Homo sapiens: one gene and its partners. The protein of the gene in region 3 purifies or fractionates together with the protein of the main gene of each other region. This does not show direct contact. Each region holds a gene or a part of one and is shown on either strand. Other genes may lie near its edges.

Region 1 (2,975 bases), on a different chromosome or scaffold from region 3:
TGGCCTTTCCCTCCTCTAAGTGGCTCTGCAGAAGGTGCTCGTGGTACTACCAGAGACTGACCTTCCCAGCTGGTGGTCTAGCTCCTCCCTTGTAGCCCTTTTGTGCTGAAGGGAGCTGACTTGAGTTCCTGGCAGAGCTGGCCCCTTCCCCCAGATCTTGATGAAGAAAAACAAGGGGAGGGAGTGTGCCACGTCTGGGCAGCAGTGGCCTTTTCTGACTTCTCTGCTGAGCCCCAAGCAAAGGAAAGGGAGCCAGAGGCCCCACTCTCCCAGCATTGACTCACAGAGCTGTGAGACGAAGCCCTTGTGCAGAAACAGGGATGGCAGGAGTTCAGAACAAAAAATGCAGTGGGGCAGGGACAAAGGGCCAGGGCCAGTGTGTTGGAGGGGAGCAGGTGAGCAGGGCCCCATCCTGGGGCAGGAACACCTTACTGCTGAGAGCTTGCAAGAGACCAAGGCCCAGCTGGGAAAAGGGAAGAGATGAACGGCAGAGGCTCAAGTTGAGAAATCCAGATTTACTTGTGGCCTTTCTCCAGGGTGCCAGAGAAGACCAGCAGGCATGGGCGGATGGGGCAGCTGTGCTGTGGGTGAGTGAGTGGGTGTAATAATACCGGGTAACATTTGCGACGTACCAGGCGTTGGGCCAAGGAGCTTGCACACGCTGCCTTGGTCCTCACAGCAGCTGATGAGGCAGGTATCACTATCTCCATGTTACAGGTAAGAAAGCCAGCTGAAAGGCAGCAGGAACTGGCACAGGGTCACCCGGCTGGGAAGTAGAGCAGGGATGTGCCCCAGGCAGTCTGATGTAGAAGCTGCCTCTAGTCTATGAATCTTTGCCTCTGATGGATCAGAAGAGGGAGTCAGGGGAGTCCTTGGAGCTCCAAACACTGCTTTGAAAGCCACCCCTCAAAGAGCTGGAGAGTTGGAGAGAGAGGCTTTGGCAAGAGCTCAATAGAAACACTGTTTATTCAAATGACAGGCAGGAAGCGGTGGCAGCAGCAGGGGGGAAAGGGCAGCCAGGCAGGGGCTGGGCAGTGCTTCCCTGTGTCCCCTGCAATCCTGCTTGGACAGCCACCCGGCTGTTGGCATCAGGGTCAGAAATACTTTCCCTCCTCTCCCTCCTGCCCCAAACTGAATAAATAGCATCCCTCTCCCCACGAGAGCTAGGGGAGACTCATGTGCTGAGTTTGGTGCCCCAGTCACAGCCCAGAGTCCGGTGAGGGCAGAAGTTCAAAATGGCTTGTAGGGAGTAGAATACAAAACTGTTCTACTCATTCTCACCTTCCTCTTCCTCCTCCCTGCCACACTCCCCTCCCAGCCTGGTCCCAGGACAGGTGGTCGGTGAGGGTCTGGAGCGGGAGAATTGTTGCCTAGCATACACTGAGCTCAAGTTCACAAGGCCATCCAGCCTGTCACCCATCCGGGTTGACCACCAAAGAGAACGTCTCACTTCACGCCACTTTATGGACATAAAAGGAGGGGCAGGGAGGGAGGCAGTGGGCAGCCAGGCCTTTCCCAGCCTCAGAGGTAACCAGAGTCCGAGGAGCAGGCCCCCTACCGATCCATCTCGTCCAGGAGTGGGGTGGCATCGCCAGCAATGGACATGGGGGTGCTTTCGATCATGGGGCTGGGGGAGGGCCGAGGTGTCAGCCGCTGCTTCTGTTTCCGCCGTTCTGCCTCCTTTTCCTGCAGCCACTGCTCCGCCATTTTTCCCCAGTCGATGGCTGCATGGCTGTTGGACCTGGGAGGGGAAGAAAAGTTGAGATTGGGACTTTGCTAGAAGGAAGTCTTCCCACCAATCACTGTACCCTTGCAGAAAGGAACCTCATACCTATGGGCAGCAGCCCCTCTACTGGGATAAGGCAGATACAGCAGCAGCTGGCTGCCATACTGCCCTCTTCCGTCTTCACCCAGAAACTAGTGTTCCTGGCATATCATGTGGTCAGGGCCCTCAGAGGATCCAGAGCACCTGCCTCTGCTAAGCCTTTCGGCCTCTTGACAACACCTGCCCCTACCACTGACCTGCACTGTGCCACCATCCAGATACTTACTTTGGCTGCTGCTGCCGTTGCCGGGAGCTGGAAGAGGGCTGGGGCTGGGCCTGGGCCGACTGTGGGGTGGTGCTGGCCTGGAGCTGGTGGTACTGAGGGGTGGTGATGGGCTGGCTTGGGGTCGTGTAGGAGTAGCTAGGGGTCATTAGTGGTGTGGCCACTGGCTGCTGGGCTGGCGTTGGGAATACCTGGAGAGGCATGAACAGTTAAATAGGGATGGGTGTGGGGCTTGTTTGGCCTTGCTGTGAATTCTGGGTAAGCGCAAGGGTGGGCTCAGCAAAGCTTTCCAGATGATCTTCCACTGAGTATGTGCTTCTGACCAGCAGTGGGAAGCCTGCAGGTCAGCACCGAGCACACAGTGGTGCCCACTGGTCCTGACCATGTCAACTTTCTGGTGGCTTGCGGGTTCCAAAGATCCCAAAGGCCCGTGGAAAGGTTATGCCCTCTCTTACCCTCTTCCCCTTCAAATGGGCCTAAGGACAAGAAATATCTGTTGGAGACAGTTACCAAGGCCGTGGCAGCCCCATCTGTGCATGTGAAGCCCCTTGTGGGCAATGCGAGAGGGCAGTCTATGGGCCCCACCCTGCACAGGGAGCTTCCTCCCCAAGCCACATACGTGGTAAGCACTGCTGCCGCCTCCACTGCCGCCATAGCCGTACTGGCTGGAGGCCCACTGGGCTGGGGTGGCATTAGGGTTCTGTCCTTGGCCTGTCACCGCAGCAATGGCACTGAACATCTGTGAAGTCATGTTCTGAGGCAGGGCATTCACAGCCCGTGTCAGATCTGTAAGCACACAGAGGTGGGGAGGGGCATGTTAGAGGTGAAAGTCCCTTTAGCTCCATCCTTCCCACCTCCAGTCCCAGGCTCAAGCTCCTCACCTGCAAGGTTGATGTTGGCTGGGGTAGCATTGATAGAGGCAGGTGT
Region 2 (3,500 bases), on a different chromosome or scaffold from region 3:
AAATTAAAAAGTTAGCCAGGCACAGTGATGCACACCAGTAGTCCCAGCTACTTGGGAGGCTGAGCCCAGGAGTTCAGCGTTGCAGTAAGCTATGATTGAACCACTGTACTTCCAGCCTGGGTGACAGAGTGAGACCCTGACTCTTAAAAAAGAGGCGGCACAGCTTCTGCTCTCTCTGCTCTCCACCACGTAAGGACAGGAGAAGGCAGCCATCTGCAAACCAGGAAGTGGGCTCTCACCAGATACTAGGTCTGCTGGCAACTGGGTCTTGGACTTTCCAGCCTCCTGAACATGAGAAATAAATGTCTGTTGTTTAAGCCCCACACTCGACAGTAATTTATTACAGCAGCCTAAGCCAGGAGACAGGTAAGATCCACCCTAGATCACTGCGTGTTTGACTGAAAGACATGTAATGCGTACCTAGGTAATTGGCCATGGAGATGAAGCACAGCCCTGTGATGTAGGCATCGTAGCCTGCCTCGTGGAGTTGTTCAGAGGCTGTGTCATAACTTGGAAAACCTTCGGCACTTTCTAAGAAAAAAAAGGAAAAAGTTTTCCTCAAAACAAAGACTAGTAAGCACATTGCCCTACCAATCAAAATTGCATTAGCATATGCTAGAGAAATACCCTAAATAGGCAGAAAAAAGCTATCTATTCCTTAATTCTCTCTATATAAGACCTTAAAATACAAGATAACAGAGTCACTGAAAAGGAGGGCTTTGGTCTAGGATACAGAAATGCCTCAGTTAGATTACAAAGGACTCAGCCGTGGGCTTTCTCGTCCCACACTGGTGGGTGCTATTTATGATCATCCATAACTCACTCTAGGACAATGATTCCTCTTCTGCTTGCTTTCTAAGGCCATGAAAAGGATATTCTTCCCTTATACAAGATGGTCACATCAGGCCACAATAGATGATCCAGAGTAAAGATTAAGAGCATGGGCTCTGGAGTCACACTGAGTTCGAATCTCTGCTCCACCACTTATTTGCGGTATGACCTTGGGCAAGTCACTTCATCCCTAAGGTTCCAGTTTTGTAAAACAGAGATGATAATCAAACCTTCTTCAAAAGGTTATTGTTAGGATCAGATAAGATAATATAAGTTAAACTCTTACCTAGTGCTTGGTACATAGTAAGTGCTCAAAAACTGTTATCTATCAATACCTGAGGCAACCCTCCCCCAAAAAAAGAGAAGACTGCAATTCACTATCAACAGCTCCAACTCACTACTGTCCTCTACTATGTTCCCAAGCTTAGAGATCGAAAGGTGACAGCACAACCAACTCCAAAAATAAATCGAACTTGCTATAATGCTGGCCTTGGATCATGGAACCACTTTACAGCAAAGACCGCTTTATATACAATATGGTTCTTTTGTGACATTGATAAATACAGATGTGACCAGATAAACTATAAGAGGAATGACCTGCTTTAGACTGAATTCTCTACCAGATACCACTATTTTATATGGAAATAATAACATAAAACTATAACTCATAAATAATTATATCCTAGAACCATTCTGGAAATGAATGTCAGGAAGGTTACTATAACACAGAATCAAAAGCATAAATGGAAATTAACAATGAAAAGGCTGTAACTGTTTTTATGTCAATACAATGCTCTTTAAGCAAGAATTCTTTAACTCCATATTAAATATTAGACTTGATGCCTTTAAAAAAAAGCCTTTTAACATGGTAGCCACCTAAGTAATATCTTCCACTCCATCATCAACTGAGACACATTCTTTCCAAAATCAATTATTTCCATTATATTGTTATAGAAAAGGTCCACGTTTTCTCCCCCAATGGCCCCACCACCACTTTTCTTAATTCCTTTCTTGGACTATTACCCAGAAAGGGGCAAATAACTGTAATCTTGGCTGCTTTAATACTTTGCATTATCAATTTCTAAACCATTAGTCCTATTATCCATGTCTTTAGAAGTTTTCAGGCTACAACTAATGGCTCGCTAATCACCGTATCAGCAGCACAATCAGGTTAACAGGGACCAAGGAAGTAGCACCTGGTAGGCTCTCCACATACCTTGGTGGTGGCCCGAGGTGGCAAAACACCTCCATCTCATCTCCCTACTTCTGGTTTTCCTCAGTGCTGCTGTTTCTACTCTCTAAACCAGCTGAAAAGGAGGCAGGGTGGGGACTTGCCTTAATCTCACCTGTAAATCCAGTTCTCGGGCTTTTCTGAGATGGAAAATATATTTTTTACTCTACCCCTGGTGATTAATCACTAGCTCTTTGTCTCTGCTTCAATAATGTATGAAAGAATAAAAGGGCACATCAAGTTTTAGGAGAATTCCATATTATTAGAAAATAGAAGCCTTGAAGCTTTAATTGCTAAAATTCTCAATGAATGGCTACCCAACTCCATTAACATAAAATATATGTAGAATTAAAAGACCATCTTTATTCAAAAAACAATAATTCAACACACGGTACGTGCAAGTGAATTCAGCCAAAATCTATAAATGAACAATACGGTCTCCAGAGCCATTCTGCTTTTCTTCTACAATATACATCAATAATTATTACAAAGAGTTTGGAGGGTTTCCGGTTTAATATTCTTACCAACTTTAGGAGGGTTGAAAGGTGTCTCTTTTAACCGCTTTTCCAATTCCGCAAGGGATGTGTTGTTAATGATATCCTGCAAACCACGAAGCAAAGAATTATGAGATTTCATCATCTCAGAACAATATATTAAAGAGATTCACTGACCCCCCCAAAAAAAAGACAGCATCTAGTACTGTCTCCTTGTGTTCTTTAAAGAAACACAGAAGTCTTCGTTTTTTTCAATGTGAAAGAGAAGCAGCTAGTTTAATTTTTATAATATACAAAGTATAACCAAATGAATAAAGATCTTTACAGATGCATTAAATACCTCCAAACCTTTTGCCAGAAGGCTATATTGTTCTGGCATTCATTTCACTCAGTAATATGCAGTCGCTTTATAAAGTAGCAAATGAATAATACCTTAAAAGGTTGTGTGCTGGCCATCAATTTAGTATCCAAGAGTCTAAAAAGAATTTTTAACAAGGTAAACAAAATGTATATCAATGTTTAAAATGTCTTTTACTCAAATATGTAAGCTACTTAAAATACTTCATACATAAAAAACATAATTAAAACATAAAATGTTTAATACAGAAAATACTTAAACACAGACAAAGTAATTAAACACATTGGCCATTTTGAACCCAGCACCAGCATCCCTGCTACGTTGGAGTAGGTACTCAGTCCCATCATCAGCGACTTCATTGAGCAACTGCAGGAGAGTCCACACTTGGAGTACAAGTTCTAGATTCACCTGGATCCTCAGAGAGCCTGGGCTCCATCAATCTCAAGGGTGAGTCAAATACTCTCACATGGTTTTACGTGGTTCAAATACTGCTGCCGGTCTACCATTCCCAAACTGCTACCATCTACTCCTACTCCTCAGGTTTGTAAACTATAAATTCTTCTGCAGGGCCAAAATCTACAATCAG
Region 3 (3,500 bases):
GCATCTTTCAACAGTAGCATGGAAGCGATTCAAGAAGAGTTAGGAATAGAAGGAAAAATTGGAGCCATTTGCTACATAATTGTAGAAAAGACTTTATGGTGATTTCTGAACATTTCCAATGTTTAAAGACAGTTGGGATAAAACATGGATTTATCATAGCTCCTCTTTTCCAGGTAGCTTGAAATTAGTCTGCATCCTTTTTTAGTTTCTTTGGTTAAATCTGCATTTATCTCTTATTATCTCAAACCACACCATTCTTCCTAAGAAGTTCCAGTGGCAAATACTTTCTAGTCAGCAAGGTAGTTTCACCACACAGTTAATTACGTATAGTTTTAAAGCAGTCTGCTAGTTTCAAGACAGGCACTGTCTGCATTTCCTATGAAGAATTGTTAGACGAACCTAAAAGATTACTAGGTATTCAAGATCAAGATCAATGGAAATTAGATTAGCCAAAACAAACAAAAACCAAAACTCTGTATGTTCTTTACCATCTTTATTTTATTTGTTCTTCACTGACATTTATTATGGCAAGTACTTGTGGTTACTGGTTTATATGTGGGAAAGATAGCAAAGAAAGGGGTGACAGAGGAGGTGGAGAAATGAGGTCAGAAATTGAGCATGGCCAAATGGATAAAATGAGATATGATAGCACCTTTAATAGCCAGATATGAAATTATGTATTTTTCGTGACTGAATTAATCATAATAGTGCTAGTGCCAAAGACATAGGAAAAAATTATCAAAATATCTTTAGTAAATAGTTTGAGAGTAAAGTAACAATATAGATCCCAAAATTATTAGGGTGTTTTGAAGGTAGAACCCTGCATATATAGCTAACATTTTTCATTTCTTATTCTATTCTAATTCATTGATCGTGACTCAAAAAATACAGATTCAAAACTGTTTACTAGTCAGATATGTATGTTCACAACAGTCTGACAAAAATAAAATTAGTGTTCGATATTTAGCTGATATTTAGGATTTGAAATATGCAGTTATCTTCTGTGAATACAAAATTGGCACTTGCTGCTTGGGTATGTGGCCTTAATTCGGCAGTGCCAGCACCCACAAAGCTATTGACTGTTGGGATCTTTGTCCGTAATTAGCATTAGCTGCCACCAGTAAGTTATAGCATTTTGATAATGGCTTAGTGACTGAAGAGTTAGACATCTTATAGGCATAATTATCTTAAACAGAGATTCAAACATTTTAAACATGCTTTTCTACCCCCTAAAAAGGCACATGACTTATTTAATACAAAATTATTTTTAATTGAAGTCACAATGAAATTTTGTAAAGCAAAAAATAGAAAACTTTCTTAAATTTCTCAAACTACTTTGCATTCAGTATGCCATTTAATCTTTTTAACAGTTCTATGACTATCCCCATTTTAATGCAAAAAACTAAATCCCAGAAATTTTAGACTTATACCAGTTACATAGCTGGTATTTTAAATTCTGACTTCAAACCTTAAGTACACGTCCCTGAAGGCTAGAAAGTTAATTATTTCAGTCACTACTTAATGTAATAGAGGATTCCCTGAAAACTGAGCAAAATGTTTTCTTCAGTTCCCTGTATTCAATATCCTAAGCAGTTTATGGTATATAGCCTATTCAAAGGAAAAGAGAGCATGGATAAATTTTAACGTATATTTCACAGGATAGTTTTGATGCTTCTAGATTTTCCTTGATGAAGTGACATAATGAATATATTTTTTATAATTTAGATTAGTTTCTGGATGATACATCAGTCCTAAGTTGACTACCAACTTTGGGGTCTTCATAAGTAACACAGTAATGACATTTGGCACAGGCTTGATCTCTGAATATAGAATTAAGACTGCAAACCAGCTCTGTTTCAGGAATTTAAGTCATAAGAATATATAATCAGGTTGCATCAGAACAGAAAGAATAATTTTATTGCAGCAGAATCTGTCACAGTGTGTAGATGTGAGCATACATTTGAATTGTATACTTACACTCTTATTCATGAAAAAATCTATTTTTAGAGTAAGTGGTTAAAGGGATGATTACATCTCACATGCGCATTTAATCATCTTGTCCACTATAATTTTGCTGTCTGGTCTCAGAAAGGGAAAAAAACTTTGGACAATACTTATTACTTTATTGACTGTGTTAGTTTCTTCTTCTTAAGTAGACTGTTGTCATCTCTTTTCTTTTGAGTCCAATTTTCCTATAGTTTGTTTATGTCAATGGCTCGACAAAATGATAAAATATATTTCCAGAAAGCACATGGATTTGGAACTCTCTCTTGTTATGTTTATATTAGGCTTTATTTTAAAGGCAAGTGAGACTGCTTCAAATAAAACAACTTCAAGCTTCCAAGAAACAGTTAAGAGGAGGCAGAGAAGAGCAGAAACACTTCTTTGCTGACACTTACACTGTTGCCATGGACCTACATAAGCAGTGGGAGAACACAGAGACTAACTGGCATAAGGAAAAGATGGAATTACTGGACCAGTTTGACAATGAAAGAAAGGAATGGGAAAGTCAATGGAAGATTATGCAGAAGAAAATAGAAGAGGTACACTTTAATTTGTTTTGGATATACTGTAATGTTTAAGTGCAGGATGAAAATTCTGTGGGCTGTTTTGTATTGGAAACTGTTTTTGATTTCCTTATTCGACCTAAGAGGTACATTTCTCAGTGACATTTACTAGAACAAAAATAGCATAATCTTATCCAATGGTATTGTAAGGATTATTTTATATCATTGCATGAAAATTAAGCATTTGAAATGTCACTCTATAATGTTTCAACTTATTATTTTCTGGCTAGAGAGCTTTTTTATCAAAAGTGAGGTATGTATTTTGCATGAATTTTCAAATACCAGGTCCAGGAGTAAAATGCAAGAAAGATATACTTGGTGGGACATAGATTAGCAAAATTATAGTTGGGCATTAGAACATAGATCTTTCCTAAGAAGATTTATGAGTAATGTCTATTAAAGGAAATTACATGTTAGATAATGCAGTATAATCAAAAGGAGTATCATATATCAAACAGAAAATGGCAGTAGACATGAGATTTATTCTATCAAGGTGTGCACATTTAGTGGCATATTTATTGGAAAAGGAGTTATGAAAAATGACATATCACGACTCTGACACAGTCATTTTGTTCCCGTTAACCCTCCCTCAGTCCGTTGACCCTGAAATATTTCCTTCAAGCATTTGCATTGATGTATATTCAAGCTTTTGCACCAATTGGAAATAATTTATGCTTATCTTGCTTTCTTTTGGTAACATCCTTAGTATTGACTTTATATGGTTTTATGCACATTACCAAAGTTGTTATTTTAAGACTTCTTGGCCTTTTTTGCAGGCAAAGTAAGTGCTTTATGTGTTTATAGTACAGTCATGTTTCTTATTAACAGCCATGTAATTGACTGTGAATAAAATATGAATTGGCATAGTAGGAAGAAAGCTGAAGAAAAGTAACTATTAAGCCCTTCCTCTAAAATAGAGCTGAGAAGGCAGGC
Region 4 (4,269 bases), on a different chromosome or scaffold from region 3:
CACCATGCCCGGCTAATTTTTGTATTTTTAGTAGAGATGGGTTTCGCCATTTTGGCCAGGCTGGTCTGGAATTCTTGACCTCAGGTGATTCACCCACCTCGGCCTCCCAAAGCGTTGGGATTACAGGCTTGAGCCACCGCGCCCGGCCCATACTTCTTAATTTTGTGATTTATTGCCTGAAAAACGGTCTCGCTGTGGTGTTTTTTTTGTATTTCCCAGATTAATAATCAGACTGAATTCTTTTCATGTTTATTAGCCATAGCAACTCCTCTTCCACACTGGCATTTCTTATCTTTTTCAAAAATCTATTAATCACGAAAATCTCGTCATCTACATTTCTTCACAAAAGCCATATTACTTTTGATCTTTATAGATTATTTTACATTTGCCATATTTATACATAATATCTTCCCTTTTGGGGCATTTAGAGTGTGCGGACAAAGTCTAGGCAGTAATGCATTTATAAAACATCTATGAGTTGGGTGCACACGGGGTAATTTTCCACATATGGCTAATCCTAGCCTCATCAGATTAAGTTTCCCTGTCTTGTCATTTCCGAGGATGTATCCTATTAGAAGTCTAGCCCTTTATTCCTACAAATTGAATTTCCACTACTGTAGGCTAACATCTGAATGGACTCATCTTACTATTCCATGCATAGTACCAGGCACGTTGCGTGCTTTTACTACATTTTGTATAATTTTTACGTCTGTGTTTGATGTCCTGAAAAATACCGTCCACAATTACTTCACAGCTAGCCCCAGCACTTGGCGCCCAGCGGGTTTTCCTAGTCCCTCCCTGCCAAATCACGTTGGGACTGAGACAAGAGGCACTGCGGGTCTCTTACCTATAGTTACGAAGCAATGGACTCCCTTATTACTTCGTTTCCCAAATAGGGGGTGGGACACACAACCGAGGGAGTATGAGGAAAACAACTTGCGGGTCTTCGAGCCACTTGCGTCTTTCTGTGGGCGAGCCTTTCCAGGCCAATTACATTTTCTTTACTCATATTGCATAAATAGCAGAACTACATTTACCACAAAGGCCCGACATTCATGGTCATGGATCCTTGCGCATGTTTTCTAAGAGCAAACTGTACAAACACATAAACTCTGAAACACTGACGCACAAGCGAAAACACACGCACATGTTTGGGTCTTCTCCCGCTGCGCAAGTTCTTTGAAACTGAGCGGAGAAAAATCGTCTTCACATGGTGTCTCACACTTTCGACACAATCTTATCGGGAAACGTAACACGTAAACAAAATTTTTTAAAATGCATTATCAAAAACGATGACAATCCCTTTCGTCTTATGTTCCTTTTTGTCTTTAAGCTTTGGGGGGATTTATGTTGCGTTTCCAAACTGCTTCTGCCTGTCGGCGCCTGTGTGGAAACTGCGACGAGTCTGGGAGCGGCTGCCGGAGAGGCGGGGCAGAGGTGTGACGTCATCGCCGCGGGGCGGAGGCGACAGTGTCTAGCGGGAGCTCCGCGTGTAGCTACGCCGGCCGCCTGGCTTTGAGACAACGTGATTCTCCGCAGCTGGTCGCCTACCCGTGATGTTCTGCCCACGTCGAGACCTGAGCTGAAATGGCAGACGATCTCGGAGACGAGTGGTGGGAGAACCAGCCGACTGGAGCAGGCAGCAGCCCAGGTACCCACTCTGTGCCCGCGCTCCTACGGGGCCTCTCCCGGAGCCCTTCCGTGCGCCTCAGCCCTGGTCGCTTCTGGCGATCGCGGTGTTTGCCCAGCAGGGGTGTGCACCGCCTTGGGAGCGCGCAAGCATCTCGGGGAAAATGGTGCAAGAGATTCTTTAACACGTGAAACAGACAGCTGTGACATTAACTCAGATCTGTCTGCCAGCCAGGAAGGATCCTTTCCACAAGCTTTCTCTTTTCCTTATTTCTTGAGAATGGATAAGACAGTTTTTGTGAAGAGAGGCAACTTTGTATGATGGTTAAGGGTGACCCATGAACTGCTTTCAATTCAGACTGAGGTCAGAAGCAGGGGTTGCTGCTTCAGACTCCCTCCATTCAAATCACGACTCCAGTATTCTGATACTGTTTAGCCTCCTTTTCCTCATCTGTAAAATAATGATAACAATAATGTCCATTTCGTAAAGTTGTGAAGATTAAGTGAAGTTAGTACAGTAATGCACTTTAGCATAGTGCTTGACATATAATGTGTGGTAAATATAAGTTACTGTATTTCTTGTGGTCATCATCATTATCATGGAATTTGGAATAGTAGAACTGGAAGGAGGCTTAAATAGAGATCATCCTTTGAACTCACTTATTTTACAGATGAGAAACATAACCTAAAGATGTCAAGTAACTTGACAAGTTCACAAAGCTAGCTCCTTTCAGAAACAATACTAGAATTCAGTTAACACAATTTGAATAGTTTCTACTATGCTCTGCTGTGTTTACCAACTCCTGATGCAGTGGGCATTTCATCCCCAAGTAGAGTAGCGTTAAGTGACCCCCCATGTCAGGCTAGCCTTGAACTTTTTAAGTTCCATCACACCTACCATGCAATTATTGGTTGGTTGGTTTTTATCACTCCTCAAGGTCTGCCTCTTTTCTCTACAAGAGAAGACAGGGCCAAAGTCAGATTCATACTTCTGTCATCCACAGGGCCCTGCACATGTTAGACACTTGATACCTATTTGCTGCAAACAATCTTGAAATACTAGTTGTGAAATATCCATTAAAAATAACCAACTTCATTTGTTGCATTGTTTCCGGAAGGTCAAGCCTTCAGGTACAAACTAAGCAGATGTCATTTTTAGAAAGGTAGCCAATACAACATTTCCTTGATTAAACTTCCTGACTCTTTTGCAGCCCTGTGGTGTTCCACATTTACTTTAATAACTACCCCTCCCAACTCAGGTGTTAAAAAGCTCTATTTTATGATATGATTGAAGATGAACAGAGGCCATTTAAGAAATAGTTGAATTCTGTTTGAGTGGTGAAGGGGATCCCAATTCTTGGTTCTAGTCCTCACTAGCTGTGTGACTTTCAAGTTATTCATCCGTTGGAAGAAAGGCAGTCAACATGTATTGAGTATCTATTATGTGACAAATGTCTTCATAAATATGAATTGATTTAACTTTCATAACATCCCGAAAAGGTAAGTATTCTCTTCATTTGTATAGGTGAAGAAACAGAAAAAAGTTAAGTCGTGTTCTTAGGAACACACATTGAAGAAGAGGTCTGGGAAGAGTTTAGTCAAGTGTGATTGATTTTGAAAGTCACGCTTTTCCCGCTACTACTTTGTGACTTCTCTGGGCCTTTGTATCATAATCTGTAAAGAGCCCTTAAAGATCATCTTTTTTAGGGTTTTACCAACCAACAGTTTTTTTTTTCTTTTTTTTTTTTTTTGACACGGAGTCTCCCTCTGTCGCCCAGGCTGGAGTGCAGTGGCACGATCTCGGCTCACTGCAACCTCTGCCTCCTGGGTTCAAGCGATTCTCCTGCCTCAGCCTCCCAAGTAACTGGGATTACAGGTGCCCGCCACCACACCCAGCTAATTTTTGTATTTTTAGTAGAGACGGGGTTTCACCATGTTGGCCAGGCTGGTCTTGATCTCTTGACCTCGTGATCTGCCCACCTCGGCCTCCCAAAGTGCTGGGATTACAGGCGTGAGCCACCGTGCCTGGCCCCCAACAGTTTTAAACACTGAATCTAGTAAAACTTTAAATCGCTACAGCCTCCTTCATCTAAGTTGCCAGAATTCTCATGAAGACAGTGTGTTGGAGTGCCTAAGATTGCTCTACTTCTTACATTCCTTCTAGCCATAAGACTAACCCTTTTTTTTTTTTTGAGACGAAGTCTCACTCTTGTCCCCCAGTCTGGAGTACAGTGGTGCGATCTCAGTTCACTGCAACCTCCACCTCCTGGGTTCAAGCGATTCTCCTGCCTCAGCCTCCCGAGTAGTTGGGATTACAGGAGCCTGCCACCACCCCCAGCTAATTTTTGTATTTTTAGTAGAGATGGGGTTTCACCATGTTGGCCAGGCTGGTCTTGAGCTCCTGACCTGAAGTGATCTGCTCGCCTTGGCCTCCCAAAGTGCTGGGATTACAGGTGTGAATCACCGCACCCGGCCAAGACTAAGCTTTGAAAATTGCTGGCATTAAATTTATCAGAGGCCTTTGCTTTGTTCGCTGCTCTTAAGCAAAGTAAGTATATGCCTTTATTTGAAATATCCTTGATTATTCACTGGCAATTTGCCTAATTGTAATCTGTACAGCGTTTCTAATTCAAAAGAAAT

What was found. Proteins that work in one complex are often made in the same cells at the same time.
Region 1: the proteins of KIAA0408 (region 3) and SUPT6H purify together in Homo sapiens (affinity purification with mass spectrometry; one large-scale study listed by BioGRID and IntAct). This does not show direct contact.
Region 2: the proteins of KIAA0408 (region 3) and PARN purify together in Homo sapiens (affinity purification with mass spectrometry; one large-scale study listed by BioGRID and IntAct). This does not show direct contact.
Region 4: the proteins of KIAA0408 (region 3) and CMSS1 purify together in Homo sapiens (affinity purification with mass spectrometry; one large-scale study listed by BioGRID and IntAct). This does not show direct contact.

What each region holds. Positions count from the first base shown.
Region 1 is NC_000017.11:28,700,205-28,703,179, reverse strand, and holds the end of SUPT6H (transcription elongation factor SPT6), read right to left. Parts: coding exon 2,930-2,975; intron 2,835-2,929; coding exon 2,668-2,834; intron 2,240-2,667; coding exon 2,052-2,239; intron 1,742-2,051; coding exon 1,555-1,741; 3' UTR 501-1,554; downstream 1-500.
Region 2 is NC_000016.10:14,581,761-14,585,260, forward strand, and holds part of PARN (poly(A)-specific ribonuclease PARN), read right to left. Parts: intron 3,032-3,500; coding exon 2,989-3,031; intron 2,663-2,988; coding exon 2,587-2,662; intron 532-2,586; coding exon 421-531; intron 1-420. UniProt on the Homo sapiens protein: 3'-exoribonuclease that has a preference for poly(A) tails of mRNAs, thereby efficiently degrading poly(A) tails.
Region 3 is NC_000006.12:127,452,890-127,456,389, reverse strand, and holds part of KIAA0408 (uncharacterized protein KIAA0408), read left to right. Parts: intron 1-2,288; 5' UTR 2,289-2,408; coding exon 2,409-2,543; intron 2,544-3,500.
Region 4 is NC_000003.12:99,816,393-99,820,661, forward strand, and holds the start of CMSS1 (protein CMSS1), read left to right. Parts: upstream 1-1,469; 5' UTR 1,470-1,587; coding exon 1,588-1,651; exon of another isoform or gene 1,652-2,080; intron 2,081-2,527; exon of another isoform or gene 2,528-2,582; intron 2,583-4,269.